2 separate regions of the Homo sapiens genome follow, and region 2 is linked to region 1. The links come from fine-mapping of genetic effects on gene expression. Tissue or cell type: blood mononuclear cells. Region 1 holds a variant in brackets; the other region holds the start of a gene. All regions are shown on one strand. Distances are from middle to middle.

Region 1 (8,085 bases):
GAAACTGGACACTTTCATATCACAAACACAACATTTGATTTTGATCTTTGCTCGCTGGACAAAACCACAGTCCGTAAACTACAGAGTTACCTGGAAACATCTGGAACATCCTGAGGATATAACAACTGGATGCATCAAGAACTATTGTGTTTTTTTTTTTTGGTTTTTTTTTTTTTTGGTTGTGATTTTTTGTTCTTGTTGTTTATATGAAAACACTCAAAATGATGCAACCAAAAGGGAAAAAATAAAAATCAAACAACCTTCAGCTTTATTTTTCTTTAAAGCCAGTCATCATCTCTTGATAAAGGAGAGGTTAAAGCAAACCAGCCTCAGCGGACCACTCTTCTCTCCAAGGAAATCCCCGGGAAGAGTTAGCCTGGATAGCCTTGAAAACAAACAAATCAAACACAACACAAGAAAACTCAAAGAATGTGTATGGTATCATGTATCTCTCTGTGGTGGTTCATTCCACAGGACGAATGCATATTCAACACACTGCCTTATTACATAACTGATCTATTTATTATCGCATACAGATATTCTAAGTCGTTGAGGGAATGACACCATCAGACATTATAAGTACTTGGTCCCGTGGATGCTCTTTCAATGCAGCACCCTTGCCATCCCAAGCCCAGTGACCTTACTCGTATACCGTGCCACTTTCCACCAACTTTTTCCAAGTCCTTTAACTCGTTGCAGTCTGTATTTTCCACCTTTTGTTTTTCCAGTTCCAGGACACAGATTATCAACTGGGGGGACCAAATAGCCACCTTGATTTTCTTCTTTGTGGTCTTTTTCCTGAAAGTTGGGGCCCAGTCCTTGGCTGTATCCATGTAATGATCTTGGACCATGGTAGAAAATGCACCAAATAGGATCATATGAATTGCTGTCTAGCCTTAGTCAATAAACTTGTAGGACTTTTAAACAAAAGTGTACCTGTAAATGTCCTGAATCCAGCATTGTTGAGCTGTCATCAACATTCTTGTGTCTGTTTTACTGTTACAATATTAGGTGAATATGGAAGTAAAGGCATTCCACAGGATCATCATTTAAAAAAAAAGAATTCTGGTCCTGTTTTCTAAAAAAAAAAACTGTTGTAGAAATTCTTAATTTGGATCTATTTATTAGTCAGAGTTTCAGCTTTCTTCAGCTGCCAGTGTGTTACTCATCTTTATCCTAAAAATCTGGAATCAGAGATTTTTGTTTGTTCACATATGATTCTCTTAGACACTTTTATATTTGAAAAAATTAAAATCTTTCTTTGGGGAAAAATTCTTGGTTATTCTGCCATAACAGATTATGTATTAACTTGTAGATTCAGTGGTTCAATACCTGTTTAGTTGCTTGCTAATATTTCCAGAAGGATTTCTTGTATTGGTGAAAGACGGTTGGGGATGGGGGGATTTTTTTGTTCTTGTTGTACCCTTGTTTTGAAACTAGAAATCTGTCCTGTGGCATGCAAAAGAAAGCAAATTATTTTTAAAAGAAAAAAACCAAAGTACTTTTGGTGTCATTATTCCATCTTCTCCATAAGTGGAGAAATGAAAAGTAAGAACAGCTCATCTTCAAAGTTTTTACTAGAAATTCAGCCGAAAAGAAGAGAAATGAAGAAATACTTCTGGATCCAAAGGTTCGTCACTGGATCAGCCTTAAGAAAGTCTCTATGTGTGCTAATAGACCAGTATCTCCCTTGTTTGTTCCCATGCCAGATGCTGTCTTTTCATACAGAGATTAACTAGTGTCTGTACAGAAAATGGTCTTTCCAGACCCATTCTTTTGGGCAGTTATATAAATGCAGATTGATAATGGAGTTATTTCTGCATTTTAAAAAGGGGATTTTTTACACTGTTTCTTTCTATCCAAAGAAACTATTTTTCCTTTAAAAAATTATAATACAGCCATGCTCCTTGTAAATTATTTCTCTGAAGCGTCCTCCCAGAGGACAAGTGTACTTTCTCAATAATGTTATGATTCTTAATGACGATTGGCATGAACCGTACTTGAAGCATTTGTTGTATTGTCCACTTCTTGATGTGCAGAGAAACTTTGAGTCATTTTGGACATTAGGTGATTGATGAATTGTGTGGTTTCAGTTGCGTTTTGTTTTTAACTTTATAGCTGGAAGGGGAGGGTAATGTTTATATGGAAATGTTGCAAATTTTTAAAATATTTTAAAATTTCTAACTGCTAACACATATTCTGATCAAGCCAGAAGTTTATGTGATTTAATATATCTGTGTAGTTTAACTAGAAACGTATATATGTAGTTTGGGCCATTTTTATTTCTGTAACTAAATTGTGGGGCAAAAAATATGATTTGCCAATGTAAAAATTTTTTCCTTTAAGTTACTAACCAAGAAGCTAGGTAAGATAAGAAATGACCAAACAAAAATAATGATAAGAAGGACAGCTATTATATGATAAACTTTAGACTTGAAAATTAGGTAATAAAGTTAATTTCTTCAGAATATCCTAAAATGTAAGTTTGTAAATTGATAAAGTTCAGAAAAACTTATCCATCTTCTACTCATCAAGATAGCAAAGTAAGTTTTTCACAAAATTAAGACTGAGAGTTACGTTATTTTTTTTGAAGTGGTAATCTTGCTCTCATCTAATTTTTAAATACAGAAATAAAAAGATCCCTTTGAATTAATTTCAAGTAGTTTTAATACCTCTCTTAAAGTAACCCCTTCAGTTCTGTCACATTTATATACACCCAACTTTGAAGCCTATTAAGAATATCTTTGACATGTGAGTACCCTAACAGTGGCTCTGGTTTCTTAAGCACAAAGGGAAAATGGCAGGGTTTAATTTCTTTGGTGTACATATATAAATAGATGTTTCAAATAAAATTAATTGGGTAAATGTGAATATGGTTTGAACCAGCCAGAGTATGATAAACTTTTAAAAAATTTTTCCTCAGTGATCAGCCAGGGGAAAAAATATATGTACAGAGCTCCTGCCCCTCTGCCCCCTTATAACTTAGCTTTTGCCTCTGGTTTTGCAGCAGGATGTGTGTTGGTGGGTTTGGGGTTCCTTCTGTCTTCGGATGTAACAGTCATGTTAGCAACAATATTTTGCAGTTACTTCACCATCCTCAGCATAATCTGCCTCTCTCTCAATCTTAATACAGACAAATAGGTATGTCTATAAATGCGTTCATATAGTGTCAAGGTAGGGAAGACTATAAAAACTTCAGATCAGGAAAAAAATATCTCTTAAGAGAGTGTCTTAAACATTTTAAATTGCTAGGCAATTTAAATCTCTCTAATCTGAATATTCACCTTTTGGTGGAAAGAGCCAGTAATATTGGTTTTCTTCCACTAAAAAGTTTCTTCAAAATTTTTTTTTTTTTTTTTTTTTTTTTTTTTTTGCCGATATCTTTTACAGGCCCACCTAATCTTTAAAAAAAAGAGAAGAAACAATTTTAGGCCTGTATAACATCCTATTTACTACTTCAAGCTCCACAAATGTAGTTAATATATTTGTTTAAGAGAGACTTTACTCTTAAATGTTTTAACTTTGCCTACTTAATGGAGTTGGATGTCCAGTGTTGGAAACAGTCAGTGTCTGTTTGGTGGCTCGTGTTTATTTTTGTCACTGTAGAAGTGATCTGCTCTGGAGTAATTTGCTGTATGCTTATTACTTTCCACCTTTAGCGTTTTGTGTACTAATGCTATGTACTGCTCCTATATTTATATATACATATATATATATATATACACATATATATTATCAGAGTAATCTTGCTTTGGACTGTTGCTCTAAAACTATGAATATGATGTAGAGACTACTACAGCTGCAGTGAATGTTAAGGAGTCAATTCCCATGGTTTAGTTTAGTCTCGGGCTGGAAGTCTACATCTTTTGACCTCTTTTGTTTTATATGATGCTTTTTATTATGTAGGCACTGCCATCCCTGAATATTCCTTGTAAAGATGCAGTGAAGAAGTCAATTTAAAAGGAAGACAAAGCCACCGCTGTCTGTAAACTGTAAAT[G/A]TGTATTTTGGCACTTGTACTCCAGTATTCTGAAAATAGAGTTATGATGGAAATGCTGACAGATCCTTAATGGTGGCCAGAGCTACCATGCAGTGCAAAAATAAATTAAGTGAAAATGTATTATTGAGATTAACAGTGCAAGGCCAATACATTTTATAAATCTGTCAGTATCTTTTTAATGGACTGTGTATGTGTAGTTATGTTGAAAGATACATTGTGTATGTGTACATGCTTTTGTGTGAATTCAAGGCACACTGTAAGATGTATTTCCCTTCTCTAAAATCCATGTTGAAATGTAAGTACAGATTGATAGAAATAGGTGTTTTACTTAAACTCATATAATCTGTTTCAGCACCTTTTTTAAAATGTATAATTGTACTGATTTGCTGAGAGTCATTTGACCAAAGTTTGGCTTTATTTTGCATACAGGAAAAATTAGCCCCTAGCCTTTTCTCAAGAAGTGATGCTGTTTCTAAAGAAGAATAGATGGGGAGATCTGAGACATCCAGAGAGAGGACAATGTGTCCAAAACCAGCTGAAGGCAGAGAGTCCATGCCTCATTCATTTTAGGAGTCCCTCATGTCTAACACCATCTTCTGTGTCCTAAAGCCAGTATATATATAATATTTTTAAAACTCTGCAAAGATTGGAACAAGAAGTGGTGGGATACATTTTTTGGCATAAACTGGGCTATGTGTGCCCGGTATTTTTTCTTTCCCCCCTATTTCTTTGGAGGGTTTTGTTCAGAAACAATGTGCTATAGCCAGAGAGAGTCGATCTTACAAAGTCCCTGCATTTACTTTCACAGCAAGAACTGCTACCTTGATTAGACAGGAAGGAGAACAACTACTACAACAAAGAGAATAAAATACATTCAGTTTGGTAAATAACCAAGGAATTGGATGTGATGCTCTTACTTAATAGTAAGGAGATTTACATCAAATTTGAGAAACTGACTTTATCTTCATTCAGGCTGACAAGCCATTTAGGGGATTAGAGGGGACTGCTTTGTCTCTTATCAACCCGAAACTGAGTTTAGGTGTGGAAGCATCAGTCCCAGATGGGTTGGGGTGGCAGTAGAACTTTCTAATGACCATACTTGGATTGGACTAATCTGTTCCCTTGTTGTGGCATAGATACTCAATTTTATTTAAAATAATGGCCTTACACCTTCTCCACTGTATAGAAAGGGTCAAGATCAGCCCCAGGCCCTGCTGAAGCACACTCACCCAGGGGTGCACTGCACCACATGGTTTTCCCCAATAATTTGTTTCCTGTCTCTCCAATTTATGGCCCCATTTCGATATGCAAGGAAACCTGGAGAGAGATGACAGATAACCAAGCCTGACCCCCAGACCTCTCTGGTTGCTAATTCAGGGAAATAAGTCTCCAAAACTAGTGGTCTTGTTTTATTCTGATTAGTAGAACAACTAAGGGTATTTTATTGGTTTCCTTGCCAGGGATACCACCCAAATAGAAAACACGGAGCACATTTCAAAGCTTCTGCTTTCTCTGCCAGGTAATAGTATCCATACCTTCCTGTTTATGCGGTCCCCTTCTGTAGAGGCGTTTCCAATTTTTTCCAGAGGTTGTTAAATTGCCTTTGGCTCTCAGCTTAGCCTCTTGGTCTTAATTTCCCCTTAATTAAAGAAGGGTAACCAATGTGGTCCCTAGGAGCTAGTGAGAGAAATATACGGCACAAACCAGAAAACACTCTGATAATGATAACTGGGCCCTATGGCTCTTAAATAACAGCACAAATAGTCTTCGACCTGAATGAGAAGGCTCCTTGAGTCCACTTTTATAACAATTCAGGGTGACTACTAGGGCACTCGGCAGTCCGCATGGAATGGGAGGTGCCCACAAGGAGTGGGAGATAGATGGTGAGTAAAGACAACGTTATTTGCTCATTTTCCCCTTAATCATGTAGTCATGTCTCCCACCCCATGCAGTCCCCACCACAGAGTTCTGAGGCTTCAAAAGGGTAGAAAAGGATAAATCCAGGCCATTAAAAGAAAATAATCAAAGCTATTGAAAAGATAAAACAAATGAGTCGCACTAAAAGGGCCGTCTGTGCAAGTAACAAGGTTGAAATACTGATACTGATTTCCTAGCCGAACAGCATTCCTCACACATGTGGTTTGTGTATCCGTGTCTGGGTGGGTGGTCTGGTGAGAAGTGCTAAACGCAGCAAGATGGCTTAGTTTTTGAGCAGTGGAGGGAAGCTTTGGGACAGGCTCAGCCCGTGGCATCTATAGTCCCTGCAACATAAAGAGGCTTTCCTTTTGCTTTGTTCCAGGATGGAAAGTTTTAACTTGGCTTATTCATTTAAATGTGAGTCTCTATTCTGCACAGAACCAATCAGAGGGTAGGAGTGTGTGTGTGTGTGTGTGTGTGTGTGTGTGTGTGTGTGTGTGTGTGTCTGTGTGTGTGTATGAACCTTCTTGTCTCTCGCCACCCCAGCCCTAGGGGATGGGATGTGTGGCATAGAATGTATAACTCTTCATTTGTTGGAATGTATTCCCTGGGTGCTAAGCACCTATTAACATCTCTTTTGAAAGGGACGCTGTTTTAAATAACACCTCGGTCTAGCTAGGACAGGAAATAGCATTAAATTAAAGGTACACACGAATACGGTCCACAAGCAATCTAAATAAAGGTGGACTCCCCCAAAAGCACATCTATACTAATGAGAATGCCAAATGAAGCGCGCTTAGTTCAAAGGCGGAGACTTCTTAAGGGAAGCTTCTTTTATTCAGGAAACACGATGCCCGACGATGGCTTTTGAGAGACACAAATCATTGCCAACTCACATCTGAAGACAGGCTGCTTCATGAATATCCCTCAGAATTGTTAGATGTCGGGAGTTTTGACTTTGAATCAGTTGGGGGATAAATCATTGTTTTCCAAATTACAATACTTATTTGTTTCCATGTTTATTATCTGTCTCCCCCACTAGAACAGAAGCACCTGAGGGCAAGAAGTTTGGTTTGTTCACTGCTGATTCCAGGACCTAGAACAAGTCCAAGACATACGAGACACCTCTATTTATCAAATGAAAATGTGGGAGCATTTTGTGGAACATGAACCTCTTTTGACATTTCATGAGAAATGGTTTTGCGTTTAAGTTTGGAAAAATTGCCCAGTATATGACCCTCTTGGCAATTCATGACGTACTAAAATATTAAATCTTGGAAAGCCACATGTTCCACCAATAGTCAAACTTGTTTAACTTTATTTAATGCAATATTTCCCAAACAGTATGTAACACAATAGTAGTTATGCAAGATAATAATAGCTGTTTGGCATTTAAAATAATGTTTCTTTATCAAAATAGTTTTTATTTTATTTTATTGTTTTTTTATGAGACGGAGTCTGGCTCAGTCACCCAGGCTGGAGTGCAGTGGCGCGATCTCGGCTCACTGCAAGTACCACCTGCCGTGTTCACGCCATTCTCCTGCCTCAGCCTCCCAAGTAGCTGGGACTACAGGTGCCCGCCACCACGCCTGGCTAATTTTTTGTTGTATTTTTAGTACAGACGGGGTTTCACCGTGTTAGCCAGGATGGTCTTGATCTCCTGACCTTGTGATCCGCCTGCCTCTGCCTCCCAAAGTGCTGAAATTACAGGCCTGAGCCACCGCGCCCAGCCTCAAAATCGTTTTTAAACTGTATTTCATTCTTCAAGGTTTATAACATAGTTTGGGTAGCACAGTTTCAGAGAAGGACAACACGGCTATTACTATCTCTAGAAGTGGTTTTCTGGATTAGCTAACCATGTAACTTTTTGGCCAAACTGGAATTTTTTTTTTTTTTTTTTTTTTTTTTTTACATACAGGATTTCTCTACGTTGCCAGGGCTGTAGTGCAGTAGCTATTCACAGGCACATAATAACATGCTATGGTCTTGAACTCCTAGGCTTAAGTGAACCTCCCGCTTTGGTCTCAGAAGTAGTTGGGACTACAGGTCCATACCACTAGATCTGGCAAACTGGAACATTTTTGAGAAGGAAATGGGACACTATTAATAATCATCCCAGGACAACATGAATAAATCAAAGCTGTCTTTGGCAAATCAGGGCATGTGGTCA
Region 2 (8,104 bases), 280 kb before region 1:
TTGCAAAATGTCTATTTAGAGTCTGGCACATTTTCTAGTTTTTTCCATGCTTCTTCTTCCTCTTTTCTCCCCAAGTCTATACAGCAATGACGGGAAATAAATGGTAAATTTTTATTGATTTGAATTTGTGCATCAATTATCTATCACAACAAATAGATAAGTTTATTTTAGGATGCTCCTTAACACTCTAATTACACGTTAAAGGCCCTCTCTTTGTTCTGCCAGAAACATGGAAACTGGCTTTAGCTTCCAGACTAAAGAAAACAATTGCAAATAAAAAGGCTGGAGCCAAAATGATGGTGGTAGGGCAATGGTGATGGTAGTGGTGGTAGTGATCTGTCACAGACACTGTTCTCTTTTATTCTTCATCACGATTTTTATTTGATATGTTAATTACTTTTCTGATCTTCAAACTAACCCCATGGTGCTTCATACTGTGCTATATACAACAGTATGAATTTTGGTAAGATAATTATTCTTTGGATAAGTAGATGATTTTATCCCTCACCACTTCCATTTTAGTTATTATATTACTATTTCTGTATTTAGCACTGAAGTTTGTCTTAAAATTTCTTTACAGTACATTTTCTATAACCACATTGTCAAGTACACAAAAGGTTATTTTCCACATTTTTACCTCACGTTAAAGTGTGAAGATCTGCACAGGAAATTAATCGATTTTAATTGTTTTTAATGGCAAGCTTATTAAAATAGGTTGTAATTAATAAATTGACAGACTTGCATAAATTTCTTTGTCCAAAGTTGAAGGGAGAGTATTCAGTCTTGTGTTTTCTTTTCTTTCTTTTCTCCCCCTTCCTGATCTTTTTGTTGTGAAGGGGTCACGTAAGGACGTCCGTGGAAGAGCTCCGTGCGCCATCTACTGACGGAATCTAAATGTCCAGTATTTGGAGATTGGGAGTAACTACGTTGGGTTGTTAGAGCATTCTTTGAGGAAGGAGGGGTACTGGGAAAATACCCTTTCAGACTCTATGGCTTATTAGTGATTGCTGGAATAAATCTGAATTCAGCAAACACATAATTCAAAAAAGAGACCTCTATCTGTTGTGCGGGTACAAGTTTTGGAGACAATCTCAAGAGAGTCCGGTGGCTGGCGCCGGAAGAAGTTAAACCCTGAAATGAACTCAAACGGGGAATGGGATTGTTGTTTTTTGCCTGTGTCCTGAGCTACACTCGCTGTTAATGGTTACTTCTTAATAAGAAATGGCTTTACTAATGGCACGTCCAGATAACCTTTAGTTTCCAATACTATTATTACAAAGGACTGCTCTCAAATTTGATTATTTTATGAAAAGTTTAATAATGCACAATAAATAGGTCCCCCCTTCACGTAGATACTACCCACACAGCTTGTCTCTGCGAATATAAACGTAGTCCTTGTACATACATACAGACACAGCGACGCATATACCTACAGGATGATATGCAGTTATGTATATGTGTGTCAGTTGACAAATCTAAGCCCTTGGATTTAGATTAAAATGTTTCTACCTTCAGTCGTTTGCTCCATTCTATGCTAAATCCTGTAGAAGGCTGGGAAGAACTGGGGACCTCAAGCCAAAGAAGTTTCTTGATTATAACTGACAGGCAGCGGAATATCAGTTTTAGGGAATCAAAAGTTGAGTTGGAAGGCTGCTGGTTTGGAAACTAAGGTTGGTTCCAAGTGGTCCGACCTGATTCCCAGGATCTTTGTGAGAGCTGCTGGGAGAACTGAAAATTAACAGCGAGGACACAGGACGCCCTAGGTAACGTCCTCCCCGCTATTCTGCTCTTCTCAATTCAAGGGCCGAGACAACTTGCTTTTGTGGAAAAGGGAAGTAAAGGGAAAAGAGGAAAGCAAGGAAGTTCAGTCAGAAAGAGGAAGAGGGACAAAGAGGAAAGAAAGGGACAAAGAGGAAAGAAAGGGACAAAGAGGAAAGAAAGAGGGACAAAGAGGAAAGGCAAGGAGAAGAGAAGGAAAAATCAAGGTTCAGCAAGAAGTTGGAAGGCGAGGGAAAAAGGGGAGTAAAGAGAAGGCAAAAGAGGTCTAAGGGCTAGGAAGATGCAAGGATCTTTTTTTAACGAACCAAAGTCACATCCATCTTTCACTTTCAAATCAATCGTCTAGATCTTATCCGTTTCCTTTTTAAAGGTTATCTGCGTCTGTAAAGGAAGCCAGTAGTTGATACTCCTCTCCGCGCCCCACGCGTGGCCGCGCTGTTCTATCTCCGGCCACTGAGATCAAATACAACGCGAGTGAGAACATTTGCAGAGGCGCGACTCTGGGAACACTCCTGCGACTGGCTGTCACCCGGGAGTCTAACCGGATTAATACTCAGAGATGGATTACGCTGGTTGTCACCAATACGCCTAAAGATTATAATCCAATTTACGCACATTACAGTCAGTATTAACTTTATCTGCTATTTTAAGACTCCCGGTTGCCCCGCGCGTCCTCAGAGGACAATCCTCCACGTTCTGATGCAACTCAGTAGGCTGTCAGGAGGGGAAGCCCCCCGAAGAAAACAACTCCAAGCCTGGTCCCCGAGGGTCTGTACCCGGCACTCCCAGGTGTCTTGCTTTCACCTGGGCACCGCTTTATGAAGCTTCCCAGCCGGGGATTACCAAAGCGGAAGGCGTTCCCTTGCAAGGAAATAGCATCCTTGTTTCTCCCTTGTTCATTTCATTTTCAAATTTTCGGTGGCGGTGGCAGAAGGGCGGGGAGTGAGGGTGGCGGGCGGGTGCCTGTGAGTGGATGGGGCAGGGGGCCAGGGGATCGTTGCGGGTTAGAACAGCCTCAGTCATTGCTATTTTCATGCTCGTTTTTTGCAGGATGGCATTTCTCTCGCTCTCTTTAAGTAAGTTTGTTTGGGTGTGAGTTCTTGTCTTTTCAGCACAAAACCACAGAAATACGTGGTGGAAAGTAAAAGAAAGCCCACTCCCTCCTCCCCGTGCGTACTAGCTAAGGACTTGATTTAACACCCCCTCTCCGGCTGCTGAGGGCTCTAAGCAGTGGCTACATTCCAGCAGTTTTAATCCGTTTTTTATTGTAGGGCGAGCAGAGTTTACACAGGGGCTGGGATGGCTCCCCAGCTGGCCGCTCTCCCCACTCCTGCGTCCCCTCCCTGCCACCCCCCCAGCAGGAACCTGTTACTTTAAGCGAGGCTTTCCAGTGTGGCGCTGCGGGCCGCCGGGGTTTCGGGAGGTGGCAGGTGATTGGCTCTTTCGAGCTCCCCCTGGCTCGCTCGCTCTGCCTCCCCGCGCGCTCCGCCCCGCCCGCAAGCCCTCCCTCCGCCCTGTGAGGCTCGGAGCCCGGGTGTCAGGCGCCACGGCGCATGCTCCGCAATCATCTTCTTTACCCTGGAGCTGCTGCTGCTGCTGCTGCTTTTGCTTTTGGGGCTGAGTTTAATAAGCGAGCGAGCGAGCAAGCGAGCGCGGGGGGAAAAAGGCAGAGAATGTCCGCCATCTACCCTCCGCTCCTGGGCGCGCTCTCATTCATAGCAGCCTCTTCATGAATTACAGCTGAGGGGGGGCGGAGGAGGGGGGGGTACCACACAACACCCCAGCAAACCTCCGGGCCCCCAGGCATGGCTAGCTCGGTAAGTACGCGCAAAAATAATAATAAAAGCCCTCCCCCACTTTCCTTCCTCGCCCTGCGCCGCCGCAGCCCAGACAGCGCCAGCGCTCCGCGGTTCCAATTAGAGAAAGGTTGGTACGGCTTGCAGGGAGCTGCCGCCTCTCCCTCAGCCTCCGCTCCCCTCCTCCCCCACCCCCCCCCGGCGCGCACACAGACACACAGACACACACACACTCACACACGCTCACACTCGCCCCTCCACCCCCCGCGCCTCCCTCCCTCCTCGCCTCTTTGCAGTCACAAGAAGCGCACTCACACACTCCCTCTCGCTCACACGCGCGCACTCACACACACACACACACACGGTGGAAGGAGGCGAATAATAACTCAGCCATATTTCAGCCGCCGCCGCCGGGAGCTGCGGGCACAGTCCGGGGACGCGGCGAGCAGCCTCGGCGGCCGCACCTCCGCAAAGCGCCGCGGCCGCTACGATGGTGCGTTCTCCGCGGCGCGCGTGTGTGAGCCGAAGTGTGCGGGGCTGACAGCGGCGGGGCCGCACGCAACTTTGCCCCAGCGCCGGGAGGTGCTGAGCGCGAGCCGAGGCTCGGCGGCTGTCCGCCCGCCGCCCTGCCTTTCTGAATTTCATTTTTTGGGGGGAGGTGGGAGATACTTTGGAGCCACTTGGGCTCTTGAAAGTGTGTTGCGGGGGCTCGGTTCGACTGGCCTCGCCGATCGCGTGGGGCTTTTCGCTGGGGGGTGCGGGGTGCTCTAAGTTATGGATGCCTCGGCGTGTTTTCCTGCGGGCGTGTGTGTGTGTTTCAGTGTGTATGACGACGTCTCATTTTTGTTGTGCACGAACCCCGTGGCAAGAGCACGGGAGTTTGTGCCCATCAGCAGAGGCTGCCTGTAGTTTCCATTTCGCCTGGCACAGCGCTCCACACGCACGCACACACACGTACACAAAGACTTCCTCGGCGTGTGCCTGTCGCCGCGGTACTTTCGGGGAGGGGGCTCGCCAGGAGCCCTTCGGTCCCCCTGGGTCCCAGCCACCTCCCCTCCCACGCCGGGAAACCGCCCCGGCATCGCCTTCTGATTTGTTTCCGATGCATTTGTTGTCGTGCTTGTCGTGGCTGAGTGTGTTCTCCCTCTTTTCCCCGACCCCCTTCCCGACTGGGGATAACATTCCGTTACAATCCTGTCCGATGTAGATGCGGGGCCCGGGGCGCCTGGGGCCAAGCCGGGCCGGGCGGGCGGGTATATTTGGGGGTGTGGAGTGTGCGCGCCCACGCGCGTGAAACGTGGATGCAGAGGGCACCGCCGTTTCCTTTTATGTGCGTTTCAAGAAGGAGGAAAAAAATGTCAGGCGCAACGTTCACTGCCGAAACCTCGCCTTCCTGTTATTCACGGCTGTCTCTCCTCCCCCTGCCCGCAGTGTGCCGTGCAGGTGAAGCTGGAGCTGGGGCACCGCGCCCAGGTGAGGAAAAAACCCACCGTGGAGGGCTTCACCCACGACTGGATGGTGTTCGTACGCGGTCCGGAGCACAGTAACATACAGCACTTTGTGGAGAAAGTCGTCTTCCACTTGCACGAAAGCTTTCCTAGGCCAAAAAGAGGTAGGGCTCGAATACAAAAGGGTCTTGATAAAAAATGTCTTTGAAACAATCGCTTGGCCCGGGCGGTCCCGCTGTCCCGCTCCCCGCCCCCCGCGCCGCGCTCGCCGGCGTAGCCTCGGGATCCGGGTGCGCGGCGCCGCGCGGGCCAGGTCCCGGCTCCCGCCTGCCCGCGCGCGCGCCACTTCGGCTTGGTGAAAGTCACCGCAGAGAAAGGACCGTCAGGTGTCGAGTGTTTATTCATCCCAAGCCAGCCCTCACCAGTCCTCTGGGGTTAGCCGCGGGTTCTGTGGGGAAGGTGCAATTAGTTGTTGAGTTTGGAGATGTGGGGAATCGGGCTGGAGGGAATAAACACTTTGCGCGTGTGTGTGTGTGTGTGTGTGTGTGTGTGTGTGTGTGTGTGTTTTCCTAGAGAAATTAAGATTTACCTGTGTTATTAGCAAAGAATGTATTGGATGTAGTTATTGTTCGGTCTTGGCAAGTCGGTTCTCTTTAGGGTCTTCTGTGCTTTCCTGTCTGTGTATGAGGCACCAGGTGCCAGTTGCCATAGACTTTTCTTTTTGTGGCTTAGCCACCGCCACACCCACTCCAGTCTGGATTTTATGTTTACTTGGGGGGCTTACTCGTTCCTCCCTCCCACCCCCGCGTGCCACTTGACTGCTCCTTTGATTCTGAGCAACGTTCCAAAGTGTCTGCCGGATGTGATCTGCAGGGAGACTGTTCTTGCAAAGGTCGAAGCTAAGTTGAAGAGGAACGATGTGGAGGAAGCCTTTTGCTTTAGTCCCTCCCCACCTTGGTTCTTAGCCTTGGAGTCTAGTTTGCATAATCCTACTGGGCCTCTGTGGTCCCAAACATTTTCCATAATGGGCAGGACAGTTTTGGAAAAAAGAAACGGAGTGTCATTTTGAAAGAAATTTAAAGAGGGTTTGAGAAATACCGATTTCTTTTCCCTTCAACCTCTGGAAAACTAATGTCTGGTTGTTTTAGTTGGATTAGTGAAGGTAACAGTACAAATACAATAAGGTGCTTTGTTTGTGAGCAGGTTTATTTATCTAAGTCGACACAATGGTTAGTAGTTATCTTCCATTTGATCCGTAATCTTTATTGGCATCTAGAACTCCTGTCGTTTCTTAGAGTAATATCATAATAAATCCATTCTGCTTAGAGCTGTGTGGAAATTATTGAACATTCAGGGGGCTGAATAAAGAAAGGAGAAGCGTCGTGTGCCTTAGAGGTGGCAGAGGTTTGTATTGGTGCTTAGTTTTGTTTCCAGAGCTCATGTAATGGGAAGTAGGATTGTATTTTTTGCCTTTAGTGGTTTGGTTTATAACTCCTCCTGAAAACTTGAACGGTTGAATTTGATGGTCTTTGTTGGATGGTTAATAAATAAATCCAGTTTCTTATAGAGGGCTAGAAATATGCATGGCCTATAGGAAATAACATTTGAAATTTGTTAGCATTTTATGTTAAAATATAGTCAGAGATTATTATATTTCATATTTCCTCCAAACTGTGGTAAGGATGAGCGATGTCAAATTTCTATCGCTGATGAGGTTGATATGCTGCTTCTCGGATTCTCTCTCTCCCTTTCCATGTGTCTGTAGAGCAGAGGAGTTTAAACAAAAGAAACCACTTTCTAAGATCCTTGGTACACATTATTACTACTACTTGGCTGCAGTTCACTTCAAGGTGAAATAAGCTTTTAAAAAGCAACATTTATTAGGAAAATTAACTCAGTTGGCAGAAGATGTAGCTCTTAAGGTAACTTTGTTTAGGCACCTTGACAATCAACAAATTGGCATTATGAAATTAAAGATGATCAACCTCTATTTTACCATTGTTTTTCTGCTTCAGTGGATGTGTGCATTGATGTTATTTTTATTTCCTATACTTAATGATTTTCTGTCTGCCCTGAGGGAACATGAGGGTGCTGCTCACATAGGCCACACCTGGGAGTTGTTGCTAGGCGTGGTAAGCTGCTTGATAGCAGTGATGACTTCTCAGAGGTCTCTGGTGAGAGATGTCTGCTTGTTGGTTGGATTCCTCAATTTTTATACTCAACTGTGGAGGTTCTCTATGCAGTCTATAAGCCATTGTTTTAAAATGTTTATTTTTGGATTTTTATTTGTATGCGTGCTTCCCATGATGTGACAAGTCCTGGGAAAAGTGCCAGCTTACATCACCCAGGAGAGACCTTGTCATACTGTAATTACACATGATTCAGATTGCAAGAGAAGGTTTCTCTGTTCATTGGGAATAGTTGTAAGTTCAAGCAACACCAAACATGCCACTTAATCCTGGGACTTATTTTTTGGCTTATAAAGTCTTTCAAAATGATAAGAATAAATATAGAATAAGAATGCCAAGAATTTGTATGTCTACTTCCAGTACCTTTTAAAGTGTTATGTTAGCTATATTGTAGATCTATAAGTGATAGAGTAAAATTCTACCAATTGGAAATTGGAGAAACTGAAAATATGAATTTGTGAGAAATCTGAGTTATAAGATCTTTAAAAGAAATGCTCATATTCTATAATAAATAAGCTGTGTTGGCTATAGTGACAATCTAAATCACTTTCACTGTATACAGTAGCTGCTAAACAGAGATGAGCCTTAGGACTGAGGATGAACTGCTCAGCCACAAAGATGAAAGAGTCCTTAGTTTTGTAAATCTTTGGTTTGGAAAAGTGAATTGATTTTCAGGTTGATTTCCTTTACTTCACAGTAATATTAGAATTTGTAGGAGAAAAAATTATAGTATTTTTAACTTGTTGCTTAATGAGAATTATGTATACCATTTCAGAATTGAGCTAATTGGATTTGAATTAATGAGGTTTTACTCTGTCACAAAGATGGGTGGGAGACCTTCAATTTAAAACTAATGGCACAAAATCTTAGAAAAGAGATTTTGATGAAATGG

The links. PIP is the estimated chance that this variant, and not a neighbour inherited with it, causes the effect.
Region 2: it holds the start of MLLT3, and the variant in region 1 is fine-mapped to the expression of MLLT3 in blood mononuclear cells (TOPMed, PIP above 0.99). The same link has a PIP of 0.9 or more in T cells.

What each region holds. Positions count from the first base shown.
Region 1 is chr9:20,338,472-20,346,556 of GRCh38, reverse strand. MLLT3 (MLLT3 super elongation complex subunit) reads left to right here. Exons shown (of 11, transcript NM_004529.4): 11 at 1-4,888. The coding sequence ends at 114. Among named protein-coding and RNA genes, the nearest start is that of MIR4473, 69 kb to the left of the region's middle. The variant G/A (reference allele first, on the strand shown) is at 3,999.
Region 2 is chr9:20,617,737-20,625,840 of GRCh38, reverse strand. MLLT3 (MLLT3 super elongation complex subunit) reads left to right here and starts at 3,342. Exons shown (of 11, transcript NM_004529.4): 1 at 3,342-3,596; 2 at 5,007-5,187. The coding sequence starts at 3,585. RefSeq lists silencers at 2,744-2,883, 2,904-3,363, 3,784-3,933, 4,004-4,053, 5,274-5,393 and an enhancer at 4,984-5,113.